Regions from separate parts of the Homo sapiens genome. Here region 2 is linked to region 1. The links come from fine-mapping of genetic effects on gene expression. Tissue or cell type: whole blood. Region 1 holds a variant in brackets; the other region holds the start of a gene. All regions are shown on one strand. Distances are from middle to middle.

Region 1 (2,758 bases):
TGCCAGTAGACTTACGCAAGGACAGGGTACAAACTTAGCTGGAAGTCTGCCCAGGCTGAATGATCTCTTCCCTAGAGTTGATTGTCGGGTACACAGTGTGAACCCCCGAAGACGGAACCTCACAGTCTTCCATGTTCCCTTCTTAACTGTCGTGTGGCTCGTTGCTAAATCATGACAATGGCTGCCTATCTGCTGCTTCTTAGGTTGCTGTTGTACATGGAACCAGGACTAGAGATTTTTTCAGATTTATAGACTTAAAAAATTAGAATTTTATTACCAGGCTTTCCTTCTCACCCCTTTTTTCTGACTTTGCCAAGTAATTTGTTGACACGAAAATTTTGGAGGAACCAATTGAAAACACACTTCCAGTCTAGATGATGCTTTGTGTGATACATTAAGTTCTTATTTTGGATTAAAAGAAGTTTTCCATTTGATACCTCTCTAAATTAAATAAATTATAGAATGTAGTTGGGTGGATTTTGGGGTGGCCATATAGTAATGGAAAGCTGCAATAATTAGTTTTAATACAGCTTGAATATTTGCTATATAGAAATATAGTATGGAAAGTTTTTGGTCTTAATGTAGCTACTGTGCGGGTCACAGTTTCTCCCAATGATTATGACTGGGACATTCTTTGGTAGATACCATTTGCTACTAGTTTATTTTGTGGCTAGAAAGTCAGTTTTGTGTGTTTTTTTTTTTTTTTATTTGAAGTGCCAAATTAACTTTAGTCAGAATGTGAGCAGATGGCTAAGTTCTCTCCTCCCCAGAATGGATTAACAGCTGCGTGGAAAGTGGGGGAGAGAGTGGATGGAGACTTTTAGAGATGTTAAAACTGCAGTAGAATGAAATGAGTCAGGGAGCTTCAGTTAGAAAATAAAGTTGAGGCAGTTTTTGTGAAGATAATATGGTTAGGGCTGGAGTGCACTAGTCTTTTTGCTTATTCATTTTGCATGGTTTTAAAATTAAAAATAATTCCGAAGATACACCAGCTCACAAATGAAAACGTCAGCCTCTGCCCCACCCTCCCTCCTGCCCAAAGTGAATTTGGTACTCAGAAAAGAACTGTTTATACCACTCACCTTTCTCCCAGCATGTACTCACTGTGGGCAGATGCACCAATACATGGTAATCCTCTTACTCATTTTAAGACGTAGGAAACTCAATATTCTTCTCTAACCATATACGATAGGGCTCTTCGCTTTTAATGATATCTGGGATTTCTGTGGAACTTGGCAAATTTTCAGAGCACCTTCACTCACATAATGTCATTTGAACCTCACAATGTTCTTGGGATGGAGTCAGTTGTTCAGGGTCCCCGTGTGTGTGATAAGCAGTGCTGGCTGGCTGTCTTCAGAACTCTTGGAAATCTTTACACATGCGAGTGCTAACCACTTTGAGCAAGGCTGCCTTCTTGTAGATGACTTGCTGTTCTTTATGACAGGGATCAGTGGCATTTGTTTCCTAGCAGTATTTAGCACCTTTTTGCCACCTTGGTGAACAGAAAATTGTATTTTCCTGTCTTTCATGGCTGAAAACAAAAGTAATGGGAATTTTAAATACGTTTGCAGAAACTGCCCCTCCCCTCATTGAGGGTCACTGCTCAAGAGTGCAGGAGTGGACTCTCCACTGATGGGTCTCCCTCCCCATCCTGGTTTCCACCCCGGGCTGGCTAGCTCTGTTG[G/A]TTTGAAGACTGACAGCCAGCCTGGCTCATTCTCATTATTGGCTAGTTAGCTTTCTTTATCAACCTGCTCACTCACAAATGTGTGCCCTCAGCCAGAGAGTAAGAAAGCCCAAATCTGTTACAGCTTCTAAAAAAATAGATTTCTAATTTGTCCTACTCATGTTAGGAGCATTATCTTTGAAGGTAAAACATAGTGTATCATTGTGTAAACTCCCAGGCTTGATGTAGCAGAAGAGATCATTTCTGGAGGCTTCAGCAATGGAATTTAGCATTATAAGAGAGATTGGACAAACCAGTCCAAAGTGGTCCGAGTTCTTAAATCCAGGTAGGGAACTCACTCTTCTTTCTTCTCTGGACCTAATTGGGCATTGGGCTTTAGTGAGACCACAGACCAGGCCCGTCTCTCCTGTAGGCTTTTAATTCAATGGCAACTCTATTTCAAAGAATAAAAGCCTTTGGAGAGTTGCGGCAGTTCTGGGGGCGGGCTCAGGAGAGTCCATAGATCAGCCGTAACTGGAACGTAGAATCTACGTCTGCCTCTGAATGGACTTCCCACCTCCTCTCTCTTGCTCTGATGCTTGCCTCTGGGCCTCTCCATGCCCAAGGTGGTCTTTCATCCTTGACAGGCTGGTAATGTGCTGGCCACCTCCAGCTCCTGCATCGAGTCTGTAAACCAGAGCTGGTTCTCATGGCCTTCGTCACGATACCAGGATACGGAGGGGAGCCCAGGGCCATCCATACCCACCCCAGGGTAACGGGGCTGGCCTGGCATTAGTCATTATTTAGTTTCCAGGCCAACCATCCAGATAGAGATTCCCTCTTTCCTTTGAGCAGTGCTCTCAAGAGCTCCGTGCCTGTCCACAATGACCTAGAGTGCATCCTGCTCATTGTCAGTGTAGCCCCTCGCCCCTATATTCATCCAGGATACTTGGAAGTGCTAAAATAGGAAGGGATTCGGCTTTCAACTTTGCTACCATCTTCCCTGAAGCAGGAAAATGAACATGGACTTAAATGTTCTTTGAAAAAACCAAAGTTTTAAGATTTGCTGTGTGATGAAGTGACAGGGAGGGCCGG
Region 2 (2,616 bases), 200 kb before region 1:
TTTAAGAGACAGAGTCTCACCATGTTGCCCAGGCTGCTCTCGAACTCCTGGGTTCAAGCAATCCTCCTGCCGCAGCCTCCCAAAGTGCTGGGATTACAGGTGTGAGCCACTGCACCTTGCAGAAAGACCTTTTCACACTATGCATAAGATTAACACGCTAATACTCCTTGAAGAGATAATATATTCACTAAAATTCATGGTAAAACATGTGACAGATATAAATTCTTTTTAAAACTCTTAGCAAGCTAATCTACTGAGACATTAATTTCAGTCTTGATCTTGCTGTTATAAGAGACTGGAACAAATAAAAAGGTAATTTCTTATGGTCCACCATCTCAAGAACAGCTAACATCTTGAATGATAAGGTCTAGGCTCTTCCTGCATCTCTCTCTTTCCTCACCCCCAAACCCAAACAACATACACTAGTAACAGCTTCTTGTTGTTTCAGGGGCCACCCTAAAGAAGAAACCCCTCCACCTCCACCACTGGCCTTCATCTTGAGGATTAGGTAACAGAGAAACTATGTTGCAATTGCTCCATAAGGGGAGTGGGGAGCTGGCACTGGTTTAGGAAGAAGGCAAGTGGCCAGACCTAAGGGCTGAATGACTTCCTCCGGGCTGGGAAGGGTTTCGGAGTTTCCAGGAATGGAAATTGTCCCTGGCTTGTATGCAGTCCGTGTGTGTGTGTGTGTGTGTGTGTGTGTGTGTGTGTGTGTGTGTAGCAGGTGGAGTGGGGAGAGGTGCATGAGGTGTCTGTAAAGGGGTGTTCTGGGGCCTGGGCTCACCAAACACCCCCTTTCCCCTCACTCCTGCGCAGCTGGCTTGCAGGCTAAGGAGCTGTGCCCTTCAGTGGTACCTCAAGGGTCATGAACTAGTAGCATCAAGACGGGGGTGGGGTGGGGGGAACCCCTCCCCCAATTTTTGAGACCCCACAGCCACAGAGAGAAGGGAGGGGGAACCTCAGAATGTGACTAATGAATTTCCCGCCAACATTGGCAGGCGGGAGCTGAGCCAGATTTCTTCAATTTGCGAAATTAAAAGACATGTGACGCCTCTTGCCCGAGTAGGTGCAGCGAATTCACTTTAGTTAGACTTTTCCTGAGAGCCGGTCTGTGTAGCGAGAAGGGTGCTGGGAGATGGGGGAATGGGGGATGGAGGAAGTTATAGCGGAGCCTAAGGGGCCAGTGCCGCTCTTCCTGCCAATTTTCGTCTTTAGCTCAGCGTCCGGAGCTCGCTGGTTGAGGGAACGACCCCGCGCGCGTCCGCCCGGCCGGCTCCGACACAAACACACGCACGTGCGCCCCGCCCCCGCCGCGCGCACGCGCCCCGAGGCTCCGGCGGCGGCGACGGGCGCGCGCGCGGTGCTCGCTGCCCCCACGCCGCTCCCTCCGCTGGGATCGCTGCGCCTCCGGCTCCCCGCACCGATCCGCGCCAGGCCTGCGGACCTGGAGGCAGCGACCGCGGTCGGTGGGCTCCGGCGGGCTCAGCGGTCGAGGCGGTGGCAGGGTGAGCGGAGCGGGGCCCCGCAAGTCCCCGGGAGGCGACGGTGCCGGGCGCGGGCCCCTGCGTAAGGTGGGCGCAGTGACAGGCCGGCCGGTGAGGCGCCGCCGGGAGAGGCCGCGACGGAGCTCCCAGACCGGCCATGGGCTGAGACACGTCCTCGCCGAGCAGGTGCAGTGACCGGAGGCCCCGGGGGGAGCCCGCCCCTACAGGCCCCGGGGACCCTCAACCCCGACCGGACGCGTCCTACCCAGCCCGGTGCCCTGTTGACCTTCCCTCAGCTCCTCCCAAAAGGCACACCGACCCCACCTCCAAACCCTGCCCGTGCCATCCCTGTGACTCCCAGCAGTCCCTGCCATCCTGTGCATACCTGCAGCCTGCACCCCTGTGACCCCAGCCCAGTAGGCCCTCGGGCCACCTCCTCTTCGGCCGATATTTACAGCCCACTGCCTGCACAGTGCCTGGAAACTACCCAGCATCTCTCTCTCCTAGCCCAAAGGGGGTGGAGGTAAGGGTGGGAGGGGAAGTGGGAGAGGGTGTCCTTCCCTCTGGAGTCCTTGGTGACCACAAACCCATCCTCTTTCTCTCAAGTGACCCTTCCGTACCCCACCAGAACATGCCCGGGTGACCTCCTCCCAGATCTTCCTTGTGGCCTTCCTCGCCCACTCCAGTGACACTATGCACCCCCACCGTGACCCGAGAGGCCTCTGGCTCCTGCTGCCGTCCTTGTCCCTGCTGCTTTTTGAGGTGGCCAGAGCTGGCCGAGCCGTGGTTAGCTGTCCTGCCGCCTGCTTGTGCGCCAGCAACATCCTCAGCTGCTCCAAGCAGCAGCTGCCCAATGTGCCCCATTCCTTGCCCAGTTACACAGCACTACTGGACCTCAGTCACAACAACCTGAGCCGCCTGCGGGCCGAGTGGACCCCCACGCGCCTGACCCAACTGCACTCCCTGCTGCTGAGCCACAACCACCTGAACTTCATCTCCTCTGAGGCCTTTTCCCCGGTACCCAACCTGCGCTACCTGGACCTCTCCTCCAACCAGCTGCGTACACTGGATGAGTTCCTGTTCAGTGACCTGCAAGTACTGGAGGTGCTGCTGCTCTACAATAACCACATCA

Evidence for each region. PIP is the estimated chance that this variant, and not a neighbour inherited with it, causes the effect.
Region 2: it holds the start of AMIGO1, and the variant in region 1 is fine-mapped to the expression of AMIGO1 in whole blood (TOPMed, PIP above 0.99).

The regions. Positions count from the first base shown.
Region 1 is chr1:109,310,462-109,313,219 of GRCh38, reverse strand. SORT1 (sortilin 1) reads left to right here. Exons shown (of 20, transcript NM_002959.7): 20 at 1-2,758. Among named protein-coding and RNA genes, the nearest start is that of MYBPHL, 4.8 kb to the right of the region's middle. The variant G/A (reference allele first, on the strand shown) is at 1,685.
Region 2 is chr1:109,508,474-109,511,089 of GRCh38, reverse strand. It overlaps AMIGO1 (adhesion molecule with Ig like domain 1), which reads left to right and starts at 1,363. Exons shown (of 2, transcript NM_020703.4): 1 at 1,363-1,670; 2 at 2,091-2,616. The coding sequence starts at 2,178. It overlaps LOC105378893 (a long non-coding RNA gene), which reads left to right. Exons shown (of 3, transcript XR_001738179.2): 3 at 449-488. RefSeq lists silencers at 1,360-1,479, 1,540-1,689, 1,700-1,759.